Linked DNA regions of Homo sapiens: all the other regions are linked to region 3. Evidence: fine-mapped expression QTL. A gene starts in region 3. Each other region holds a variant in brackets. All regions are shown on one strand. Distances are between the middles of the regions.

Region 1 (4,242 bases), 30 kb after region 3:
CCAGCTGATATTAATTCTGCTTTAAATGTTTGCTAGAATTCGCCAGTGAAGCCATCTGATCCTGGGCTTTTCTTTTGGGGGAGTTTAAAAATTACTGATTCAATTTCCTTACTAGTTATATGTCTATTTAGATTTTCTGCTTCTTCATGAATCAGTTTTGGTATGCAATGTCTAGCAATTTGTCCATTTCTTCTAGATTATCGTTTGTTATACAGTCATTTATAGTATTATATTGTATTTTTTATTTCTGTAAAATTGTAAAGTTCCCACTTTCATTTGTGATTTTGGTAATATGAGTCTTCTCTTTTTCTTAGTCACCTTACCTAAAGGTTTGTCAATTTTGTTGATTTTTTTCTTTTAAAATTTATTTTTCTGTATTATTTTATTTGTATTATAGATTGCTCCTTCAGAATATTTTTTTCAAGAAATCAACTTTTTGTTTCATAGCTGTTCTCTATAGTTTTCTATTCCCTATTTCACTTATCTCAGTTGTAGTCTTTATTATTTTTAAAAATTCTAGCTTTGAGTTTAGTTTTTCTTTTTCTAGCTCCTTAAGGTGTGCAGTTAGAAAATTTCAAATCTTTCTTCTTCTCTTCTCCTCCCCCTCCTCCTTCTTCCTCCTCGCCCTTCCTCCTCCTCCCCCTCCTCCTGTTGGGGTGATCAGACCCAACACCAGGTCGTGGGGGTGACAAAGTCCGGTGGAGTCAAAGGATTGAGACAAAGACAGTTTGAGAGATAAAGGTGGGACACCAAGGGGCCATCGTGATCATGGAGGCTGCGAAAGCCCTGCGCTCTGGGAGTCCACAGTATTTATTGGTAATCCAACAAAGAAACAGGTGGTGAGGCATGTTCTCACTCATAGGTGGGAATTGAACAATGAGAACACTTGGACACAGGAAGGGGAACATCACACACCGGGGCCCGTTGTGGCGTGAGGGGAGGGATAGCATTAGGAGATATACTTAATGTAAATGACGACTTAATGGGTGCAGCACACCAACATGGCACATGTATACATATGTAACAAACCTGCACGTTGTGCACATGTACCCTAGAACTTAAAGTATTAAAAAAAAAAAAAAGAAACAGGTGGTGAGAATGTGGAGGTCAAAAGGGCAGGCGCATGATCTACAGCTGTGACAGTTTAGCATTTATATGGAACATGTTCTGCTACTTGAGATAATGGGAATAGGAGCCTAGGAGGGCTAGAAGCAAGGAGCCAGCAAGTCTAGACACATTCCAGAGGACATTATGCAAGTCCTGCCTCAGTTTCCCTCCCAACACTCAGCTTTTTCCCAACATCCTCCTCCTCCTTCTTCTTTTTTTCTTTCTCTTCCTCTTCCTTTCTTTCCTCCTTCTCTCTTTTTTGTAGAGATGGGGTTTTGCTATGTTAATCCAGGTTGGTCTTGAACTCCTGGCCTAATATGATTCTCCTGCCATGGACTCCCAAAGTGTTGAGATTACAGGCATGAGCCACCACACCTGGCCCTTTCTTTAAAAAAATTTTTTTTTTTTAATTTTTAAAAATTTTTTTGAGACAAGGTCTTGCTCTGCTGCCCAAGCTGGAGTACAGTGCTGTAATCTCAGCTCACCGTAGCCTCGACCTCTTGGGCTCAAGTGATTCTCATCCCTCAGCCTTCCAAGTTACTGGGACTACAGGCACGTGCCACCATGCCTGGCGAATTTTTCCTATCTTTCTTGTAGAGACAGGGTTTAGCCATGTTGCCCGAGCTGGTCTCCCTCAATCCTGCCCCCTTGGCCTCCCAAAGCACTGGGACTACAGGCATGATCCACCGCGCCAGGGTGCTTTCTTCTTTTTTGATTGTGTTTATGGCTAAAAATTTTCCTCTTAGCACAGCTTTGCTGCATCCCATAAGTTTTGGTATGTTGTGTTTTCATTTTCATTTGTCTCAAGGTATTTTTATATTTCCTTTGTGATTTTTGCTTTGATCCATTGGTTGTTAAGCATGTGTTGTTTAATTTCCAAATATCATGAATTTTCAGGGTTTTTTTCCTGTAATTTATTTACTTTTTTTTTTTTTGAGCCAGGATGGAGTGCAGTGGTGTGATCATGGCTCACTGAAGCACTGATCTCCTGGGTTCAAGTAGTTCTCTCGCCTCAGCCTTCTGAGTAGCTGGTACCATAGGTGTGTGCCACCATGCCTGGCTAATTTTTGTTTTGAAACAGGGTCTCACTCTGTGGCCCAGGCTGGAGTGCAGTGGTGCGAT[C/A]ATGGCTCACTGCAGCCTTGATCTCCTAGGTTCAGGTGATCCTCCCACCTCAGCCTCCTGGGAAGCTGGGACTACAGGTGCACACCACTACACCAGCTAATTTTTTGTATTTTTAGTAGGGATGGGATGTCACCATGTTGCCCAGGAAGTTCTGAACTCTTGGGCTCAAGCAGTTCATTTCCCTCAGCCTCCCAAAGTATTGGGATTACAGGTGTGAGCCACCACACCCAACTTATTTTTATTTTTAGAGATGGGGTTTCTCTATGTTTCCCAGGCTGATCTTGAACCCCTGGGCCCAAGAGATCCTCCCAACTTCTCCTCCCAAAGTGCTGTGATTACAGGTGTGAGTCACCGTGCTCAGCCCCTTCTATTATCGAGTTCTAGTTTCATTCCATTGTGACTGGAAAATATACTTTCTATGATTTTAATTATTTAAAATATAACAAGGCTTGTTTTGTCGCCTAACGTACTGTCTGTCCTGAGGAATATTCCATATGCACTTGAAAGAAATGTGTATCCTGCTGTTATGGAGTGGAATGTTGTATATATACAAGTGTCCAAGTGTTTTATAAATGTTCAAGACTTCTATTTCCTTACTGGTCTTGTGGCTAGTTGTTCCATCAATTATTGAAAATGGAGTATTGAAGTCTCCAACTACTTATTGTTGCATTGTCTATTTCTCCTTTCAATGATGTAATGTTTGCTTTACATATTTTAAGGTCACATTGTTTGGTGCATATATATTATTACTTATTCTTGATGAATTGACCCTTTTAGTAATGTATAATGTCATTTTTGTCTTTTGTAACAATTCTTTATTTAAATTCTATTTTGTGGTCAGGTGCAATGGCTCATGCCTGTAATCCCAGCACTTTGGGAAGCTGAGGTGGGCAGATCACTTGAGGTCAGGAGTTCAAGACCAGTCTGTCCAACATGGCAAAACCCCGTCTCTACTAAAAATACAAAAAATTAGCTGGGTGTGGTGGGACACGCCTGTAATCCCAGCTGCTTGGGAGGCTGAGGCACAAGAATAGCTTGAACCCGGGAGACAGAGGTTGCAGTGAGCCAAGATTGTGGCACTGCACTCCAGCCTGGACAACAGTGAGACCCTGTCTCCAAAAATAAATAAAATAAAAATTCTATTTTGTCAGATATTAGTGTAGCAACTCCAGCTCTCTTTTGGTGACTATTTGCGTGGAATATCTTTTTCTATTCTTTTATTTTCAAACTATTTGTGTCCTCAGATCTAAAGTGAGTGTCTTAGACATCATATAGTTGGATCCTATCTCTAAAACAATGTATTCTGCATTCTCCAACTTTGACTACAGAGTTGAATCCATTTAAATTTGAAGTAATTACTGATAAGGATTTATGCCATTTTACCTTTTCTTTTCTGTATGTCTCATAGATTTTTGTCTTTCATTTTCTTCATTATTGACTTCTGTATTTATTTATTTATTTGCTTTTTGTTTTATTTTATTAATTTTTTGTAGAGACAGAATCTCACTATGTTGCCCAGGCTGGTCTTGAACTCCTGGCCTCAAATGATCCTCCTGCCTCAGCCTCCCAAAGTGCTGGGATTATAGACATGAGTCACCTTGCTTGGCTGGGTTTTAAAAATTGTTTTTGTAGTGACACATTTTGATTCTCTTTTCATTTCCTTTTGCATATATTCTATGTATTATTCTTCGTTGTTACCCTGGGGATTACAAATAAAATCCTAGAGTTATAAAAATCTAATTTGAATTGATACCAACTTAACAGCATACAAAACTCTACTCCTATACAGCTTTGTCCCTGCTTTAGGTTATTGGTGTCAAAAATTCCATCTTTACACATTGTTTGCTCAAAAATATAGAATTATGTTTTTTTGGCTGGGTGTGGTGGTTCACACATGCAATCTCAGTGCTTTGGAAGGTTGAGGTGGGAGGATTGCTCGAGGCCAGGAGTTTGAGACCAGCCTGGGCAACATAACAAGATCCCAGCTTTACAAAAAAGGGAAAAAGAAAGAGT
Region 2 (4,242 bases), 51 kb before region 3:
CTGATAAAAAGTCAGCTGCTGGGCACCATGTGACCAGCCAGCCTGGAGTTCAGCCGGCGCTGCTGTAAGGGGCAGGCCTCCCATCCCGGCCTCAGTGTAGACCAACAACTCATTCTTTTCCTGCACACAAGACAGGGCAGGCCTGCATGACCTCTACCACTCCTTCCAATGCTGCCCAGGAAATGGTCCTAAACGTGTGGGCCAGAGCTTTTCCTGAAAATATCCTAAGAACAAGATTTAAAACCCATATGTGTGACTACCCTGTATGTCCAAACAGGGTACTCCCTATTGGGGAGACTTGTGGATGGAATGCCCACCTCCAGAGCCTTCAGCAAATGATTCATGCTGTTGGGCTAAGCACAAGTCTCCAAAGAAAATGTGCAGATGGTAGAGCTGGACTCTGGACCCTCCATCAATGCAGGCCTTGCTCAGACCTTGCCCAGGCCAGAGTACCACTTACCACCATTCTGCCTATGAAGCAAAAACAAGGTAGGGCACTGTGATCCAGGCCTGGTGACCTGCCACTACAAGCTGTTTATACTGAGGCCAGTTAAGAATGGGCTTCTATTTAGGTATTCTTCAATTAAGGAAACCACATGCTCCATTATAGCAATGCTTAGTCATTATAGGTGACAGAATATTTCTAAACAATCTCTATTATCTTCTGTCTGTACAGGTGTGTAAATAAAACATCAATAAACTTCCAAGATTAGCAAAGAACAGCTGCTTCAGCTCTGCCCTATGGAATCTACTGATATCAGAATGATATTTGCTGGGATTCTGCACTAGACTAAAGGTGGCTGCTCTATCAGGTCATTATGAAAAGAGCTGTGGAGGGCTGTCCAGTGGCCATGCCTTTTCCTCTCCCCAAACGGATGTCCCTAAGGGTTGTCTGTGACTTGCTCTAACCAAGGTAATGGCGTGGGGAGTAGCAGTGTACGGTCTGGACCTAGGCCTCAAAGGCCCCACAGCCTTTCTTTTCCCTGTCTGGAGCTACTCTGGGACTTTGTGCAGGAATCGCTCCGGCCTACTGGAGGATGGCAGGGCCCAGTGAACAGCCAGCACAAACTGCCAGACACATCAGAGGCCTTCATGGCTTCTAGCCTGGTGTGAGCCTCAGCTCCAAGGGAGCTGGCAGTGGGAGGAGTGGGGAAACCTAGCCAACCCACAGAGTCATGAGACATGCTACACTGGTGCCAAGTTTTGAGGTGGTTTGTTATACAAACATTCATGGAAACCAGACTTTTTACTGCATGAAAAGATGACATCCAAGATACTGTGACCCCTTTCTCACGCAGTCTTTCTGACACACCTCAGGAAATGAGAACGCTTCAAACTACCCAGATCTGCACACAATGGCACATTTTATCAGCTCTCAGAATTGCAACTCTCAAGGAGGTGAGGAAGACCCACAGTCTGGGGTCACCTGTGGTCGTCTGGTTGAGGCCTCATCTGTCCTCAATAATTATGCAACCCTATTTGGGGGAACCCCAGCCCAGCTACACAAAGCATCTGCTCCAGGGTTTCAGAGGGAATACCACGTGACTGACCACTCAAAGAGAGGGTTCTAAAGGCTATCTCCTCACCTCACGATCCAATCATGGACGCGAAGAGATATGAGAATCCCAAAGTCCTCAAACCTCCCTCCAAGGGAGTCTTGGATGGGGAGGGGAGCCAGAGAACAGTAACCTAGAGACTAAACAGACTATTTTTTAATAACATGATGACTTCATCTAAAAAACCGGCACTAACCTTTTAGTAATTTCTCACCGCCACCCAGCTTCAGACTGTGCGGGGAAGCTGAGCCTGCCTCTGACTTACAAAGCATGGCTCTTTCATTTCCTCAAAGGCAAGCACCTGTGGCCACCTGTGCTACAGAATGGAACTCACTGGAACAATTTGCTCCTTTTCACTCTTGGAGTCTACTTTCCCATTGAGGGTTTTTTTTTTTTTTTTTTTTTTGACACAGAGTCTCGCTCTGTTGCCCAGGCTAGAGTGCAGTGGCTCAATCTTGGCTCACTAAAAGCTCCGCCTCCCAGGTTCACGCCATTCTCCTGCCTCAGCTTCCCAAGTAGCTGGGACTACAGGGGTGCGCCACCATGCCCGGCTAATTTTTTGTATTTTTAGTACAGACAGGGTTTCACCATGTTAGCCAGGATGGTCTCGATCTCCTGACCTCGTGATCTGCCCACCTCAGCCTCCCAAAGTGCTGGGATTACAGGCGTGAGCCACTGTGCCTGGCCCCATTAAGGTATTTTTGATCTCTCTCCCCTTTCAATTTCTGACATTAAACAAA[A/T]TTTTTTTTTTCTTAAAGTACAGTACAAAAGGATAATCATTAAAAACATCCACCAGGCGGATCATGAGGTCAGGAGATTGAGACCATCCTGGCTAACATGGCGAAACCCCGTCTCTACTAAAAATACAAAAAATTAGCCAGGCGTGGTGGCACGCGCCTATGGTCCCAGCTACTTGGGAGCCTGAGGCAGGTGAATCACTTGAACCCGGGGAGGCGGAGGTTGCAGTGAGCCGAGATCGTGCCATTGCACTCTAGCCTGTGTGACAGAGCGAAAGTCCATCTCAAAACAACAATAACAACAACAACAAAAAACATCCACCAGGCTCAGTGGCTCACGCCTGTAATCCCACCACTTTAGGAGGCAAGGCAGGAGGATGGCTTGAAGCCAGGAGTTTGAGACCAGCCTGGGCAAAAAAACAAGACCCTGTCTCTATAAAAAATATAAAATATTAGTCAGGCATGGTGGTGTGCACCTGTACTCCCAGCTACTCAGGAAGCTGAGGCGTGGGGGAGTGGCGGGGGAGTGGATTACTTGAGCCCAGAAGTTTGAGGCTACTATCATGGTGCCACTGCACTCCAGTATGGGTAATGGAGACCCTGTCTCAAAAAGAAGAGCTCCAAAAGATGCAGTGATCCTCATTTAGAGTAAGCCTCTCTCCTCCCACCAGCCTCAGTGACCTCGTATGCCTGCTGTCCTGGCCTCAGTCCCTCCTGCTCTTGGGGATCCCAACTCCTCCTGCACCACATCCTCAAACTTGCTCTCCTTCTACCTGCTGAGGGGTCCATGCTCCCACAGCACATAACAAAATCAACAAACACCTCTTGGTTTGATCTTGGAACCTCTCCATTTACTTCATAATCCAAATTTTTGGTTTTTTCTTGCTGCGTCTGGCTCCTGGCCCTGAAGCCTGCATCCATCATCCTGCTGAGTGACCGTGAGCCCCTGTTGGGCTCCTTCACAGCACAGCATAATGCACTTCCTTTCAGAAGCTCAGTGGGTTCTATTAGAATTCCAAATGTTTTTATTTATTTATTTTTCTTTTTAAGGGCCGGGAGAGAGAGGAGAGAGAAAGGAAAGAGGGAAGGGGGTGGAGAGGGGGAGAGAGAGAGAGAAAAGAGAGCTAGAATTTTAACTGTTGTTTAAACTTATTTAATCATCCTGCTAGGATAACAGGGCAAGACTGCTTTTCCTCTTGCAGCCGCCACTCAGCACAAGCTTCGAACACAGCTGTCATGAGCTGCAAACTACCACACAAGTGAGGGTGTTGCTTCATGTTTCCTGTTGTTTCAAAGAGGTTATAATTTTATCACCCTAAATAAACCATAAATGCAAACTGCTTAAGAGTGAAATACTGTGCTAAAGTTGGAGAAGGCGCACTCAGTCAGTTTAGCTGATTTAACACAAAAAGCCACAAGTGCTGAGATTGCTCTTAACATGTGAAGTTAAAGATTATCAAGTGGCGGTGGGGGAGGGTGGTAGGAGAGTGAGGGTTGAAAAATTGCCTATTGGGTACAATGTTCATTATCTGGGTGATGGGTACACTAGAAACCCAATTCCCACCATTACTTAACGTACCCATGTTACAAACCCACACATGTACCTCCTGAATCTTCAAAAACAAAAAATCATCAAGGGGTAACTTCAAAGCTCATCGCTGAAACCCCATTTACGTAGACCATGCAGTTTATGTATACAGTCAGCCCTCCGTATCTGTGGGTTCTGCATCCATGGATTCAACCAAACGTGGATTGAAAATAGTTGGTAAAAAACTGCCTGTACTGAACATGTACACTTTTTTTTCCTGTTATTATTCTCTAAACCAGGGATCCCCAACCCCCGGGCCACAGACCAGTACTGGTCAGTGGCCTGTTTGGAACTGGGTTGCATAGCAGGAAGTGAGCGGCAAGCGAGCATTACCACCTGAGCTCCACCTCCTGTCACATCA
Region 3 (4,242 bases):
TAAGAGACATATATTTGTATGAAATGCAGTAAGTAAACCTTGTTTGGACCCTAAATATCTAATGTACAAAATTTTTTAAGGCAATGGGGAAAATTAAACACATACTAGGTATTAAGTGATGTTAAATAATTTTTAAAATTTTGGTGGGTGTGATAATAGTATAAAGTCCTTATCTGTTAGAGACACACACTGACGTATTTATAGGTGAAATGACATGATGTCCAGGATTTGCTTTAATATACAGCACTTCAAAAAAAAATGCAGAAAGGGATACATGAAATGAGAAAGGCAGCAAACTGTTGTTGAAGTTGGATGATGAGTACAGCCCTCCGTTATTATCCAAGGGGGATAATTCCTGGACCCCTACGGATACCAAAATCCAGGTATGCTCAAGTTCTTTATGAAAGTTCATTGTAATTATTCTATTATATAAAAGTTTCGAAATTCTGTTGATAAAATGTATTTTTAGTAGAGACGGGGGTTTCACCTTGTTGGCCCAACTGGTCTCGAATTTCTAACCTCAGATGATCCACCAGCCTTGGCCGCCCAAAGTGTTAGCATTACAGGCGTGAGCCACCGCGCCCGCCTGGCCTTGATAAAAACAGTTTTAACCTTCCGTTGCTTCGATTCCATGCCCACTAAGTAACATTCCAGTTTGTTTTTCACTTTCAAAAGGATGTGCTGTAACTAGGGGATGTAAACAAGCTCCATGACCCTACTTATTCCAAGTTTTCGTTCCACTCTCCCACCTTTTTTTTAAGACAAGGTATCACCCTCGGTCGCCCAGGCTGGAGCGCGATCACTGCTTAATGCATCCTCGACCTCCTGGGTTCAAGCGATTCTCCTGCCTCAGCCTCCCAAGTAGCTGGGACTACATGCGCACACCACCACACCGGTTAATTTTTTGTAGAGACGGGGGTTTCACCATGTTGCCCAGGCTGGTCCCGAACTCCTGGGCTCAAGGGATCCGCCCGCCTCAGCCTCCCAGAGTGCTGGGATTACAGGTGCCAGCCACCGCGCCCGGCCCCAGCTTCTTAAAAGAATGATCCGAAACTATGGCAGCACTGGGCTTTTGGTCCCCACCCAAGAAATGCCCGCTCGCAGAGGCTCGCCGCGGCAGGCTCTCCCGACGTGACAGAGTGTGGGTCTGGATTCAGCCTCGGTTCTTACGAGTCAGATAGGTGGACACGCAAAGCAAAACATCACAGGGCTTTTTGTATTTAGCACAGAAAACACTTGTGAGCCCGAGCTGAGAACCCAAAAGGCACGCTTCAGGCCATCGTAGCCACCAAGCCTGGTCAGATTCCGTCCACCGTCTCCTTGGTGCTCCGAGACCCAAATCGCTGACTGGGGCCGAGGGCGGGCGTGACTGCGCAGGCGTGCCTCCCCTGCGAGATGCCGGAGGTAAGCTGCGGGGTAAGGGGCGAGAAATTAAGGGCGAACGTCATTGCGCATGCGCCCTCTACTCTCGTTGCGGGGGTAGGCGGGCGCCGGGCTGTGTGAGGGGGCGGGGCGCGGCAGTGTTCGGTACGGATGGAGTTGCAGGAGACGGCGAGTACATATCACTGCGCAGGCGTCCTCTTCCCCTAACTCTCAGGGTCGCTAGGGTGGCGCGCAGGCGCAGAGCGATGCGCAAATGTGCGCAGGCGCTTAGGGGCTGAGGCGCGATGGCAGGTGTCGGGGCTGGGCCTCTGCGGGCGATGGGGCGGCAGGCCCTGCTGCTTCTCGCGCTGTGCGCCACAGGCGCCCAGGGGCTCTACTTCCACATCGGCGAGACCGAGAAGCGCTGTTTCATCGAGGAAATCCCCGACGAGACCATGGTCATCGGTCAGGCGGGCTGAGGGTGGGGAGGCCCTTTGTACCCAGCTCAGCCCTCGGCGGCGCTCCCTCCTCCCGAGCCCAGCCGGGTCGCTGGCTCCCCCAGTACCTAGCCTGAGGGTGCCCCGAGGACGCCAGGCCCCCTGCCTAGAGCTCCGGGCCGCACGTCGGAGGGGGCCGGGCGGAGAGGCGGCCCACTAGGGCCGGTCGTGACTATGTGTCTGCCCCGCAGGCAACTATCGTACCCAGATGTGGGATAAGCAGAAGGAGGTCTTCCTGCCCTCGACCCCTGGCCTGGGCATGCACGTGGAAGTGAAGGACCCCGACGGCAAGGTAAGGCTGGCGTTGGCCCACGCAGCCGTTCTTCAGTGGAGCTCCCGTGGGGTGTAAAGCACTGCCTGGAGGAGGCCTCAAGGGACAGGAACTTGCACTTGGAGAGCCTGCGGTATAAAGGTGGGGCCTTCACTCACATATGTTGCAGGTGGTGCTGTCCCGGCAGTACGGCTCGGAGGGCCGCTTCACGTTCACCTCCCACACGCCCGGTGACCATCAAATCTGTCTGCACTCCAATTCTACCAGGATGGCTCTCTTCGCTGGTGGCAAACTGGTAAGAGGATTTTCTCTTTGGCTTCAGCTTAGAATCTCTCACTTGTTTCCAAATTTTGATTTATCAAGATTGTGAAACTTTGTAGCACAGTCAGAATTGGGGAGACAGATGTTGCCTTCTGCTCCACAGCCAGGGACAATAGTGGGTTCCATACCCTGGAACAGACAACTGGAGGCCCCACCACTCATACATTCCATGTTTCCTTGTAGCGGGTGCATCTCGACATCCAGGTTGGGGAGCATGCCAACAACTACCCTGAGATTGCTGCAAAAGATAAGCTGACGGAGCTACAGCTCCGCGCCCGCCAGTTGCTTGATCAGGTGGAACAGATTCAGAAGGAGCAGGATTACCAAAGGGCAAGTGCATATCTCCTTGTAATTTGAGAGGGCAGTTGACCTTTATACCCACTATACCTACTCAAGTTTCTGCTTGGGAGATCAGCTCTGCAGAGAATGGAATGAGAAGTATTGGTTTAGATAGGTTGTTTGTTTGTTGTTTTTGAGACGGAGTTTCACTCTTGTTGCCCATGCTGGAGTGCAATGCCATGATCTTGGCTCACTGCAACCTCCGCCTCCCCAGGTTCAAGCGATTCTCCTGCCTCAGCCTCCTGAGTAGCTGGGATTACAGGCATGCGCCACCATGCCTGGCTAATTTTGTACTTTTAGTAGAGACGGGGGTTTCTCCACGTTGGTCAGGCTGGTCTCGAACTCCCGACATCAAGTGATCCGCCCGCCTCAGCCTCCCAAAGTGCTGGGATTACAGGTGTGAGCTACCGCGCCCTGCCTGTTTTGCTTTTTTATCAAAACATTTTATTGTGGTAAAATATAACACCAAATGTGTCATTTTAACTGTCTATATAGTTCAGTGGTATTAAGTGCCTTCATAATGTTGTGCTACCAACACCATCATCCAGCTCCAGAACTTTTTCATCTTCTCAAACTAAAAATCTGTACTTATTTTGTTTTGTTTTTGAGATGGAGTCTCGCTCTGTTGCCCAGGCTGGAGCGCAGTGGCGCCATCTCGGCTCACTGCACCCTCCGCCTCCCAGGTTCAAGCGATTCTCCTGCCTCAGCCTCCCAAGTAGCTGGGATTACAGGCAAGTGCCACCATGCGTGGCTCATTTTTGTGTTTTTAGTAGAGACTGGGTTTCACCATGTTGGCCAGGCTGGTCTTGAACTCCTGGCCTCAGGCAATCCACTGCCGCAGCCTCCCAAAGTGTTGGGATTACAGGCGTGAGCCACTGCACCCAGCAAATCTGTACTTATTATAAACAATAACTTCCCGTTTCCTTTTGTCCTGACACCCACCATTCTACTTTCTGTCTCTATGATCCTGACTACCCTATCTCATATAAGTGGAATCATTCAGTATTTGTCCTTTTGTGACTGGCTTATTTCACTGAGTATAATGTTCTCACAGTTCATCCATGTTATAGCATGTGTCAGAATTTCTTAAGGCTAATATTCCATTGTATGCATGTGCCACATTTCGCTTTCAGTAGTCATTTTTAAGCTCTATAAAATAAAATGAAGAAAGGACAGTTCACAATCTAGTAATAGCCATTGCCTACCTGTTTTTCTTGGACTCTTGTTGGAAATGGTAGGATCATGATTTCAGTCCTAACAGAGATGCTTGTGGAGGGACAGCCTGTCCCTTTCTTGGGGCAGCCTCAGTGGGGAGACCATAGCACTCCTAATGGAGTCACAGATAGTATTCCAAAAGGAGTTTGGTCCTGGAGTTGAGTAATTACACGCAGGGAGGGACCTCACAACAGCCAGACTGTTTCTCCTGCTCACTTAACCCTGTGTTGCCCCACA

The links.
Region 1: its variant is fine-mapped to the expression of TMED4 in whole blood (TOPMed, PIP 0.98).
Region 2: its variant is fine-mapped to the expression of TMED4 in whole blood (TOPMed, PIP 0.99).

The regions. Positions count from the first base shown.
Region 1 is chr7:44,549,735-44,553,976 of GRCh38, reverse strand. No RefSeq gene overlaps it. Among named protein-coding and RNA genes, the nearest start is that of NPC1L1, 11 kb to the right of the region's middle. The variant C/A (reference allele first, on the strand shown) is at 2,230.
Region 2 is chr7:44,630,973-44,635,214 of GRCh38, reverse strand. All of the region lies in intron 2 of OGDH (oxoglutarate dehydrogenase), which reads right to left. Among named protein-coding and RNA genes, the nearest start is that of OGDH, 26 kb to the right of the region's middle. RefSeq lists an enhancer at 1,035-1,084. The variant A/T (reference allele first, on the strand shown) is at 2,297.
Region 3 is chr7:44,579,632-44,583,873 of GRCh38, reverse strand. TMED4 (transmembrane p24 trafficking protein 4) reads left to right here and starts at 1,643. Exons shown (of 5, transcript NM_182547.4): 1 at 1,643-1,827; 2 at 2,051-2,151; 3 at 2,300-2,425; 4 at 2,635-2,781. The coding sequence starts at 1,668. RefSeq lists an enhancer at 1,160-1,269 and silencers at 1,360-1,519, 1,920-2,019.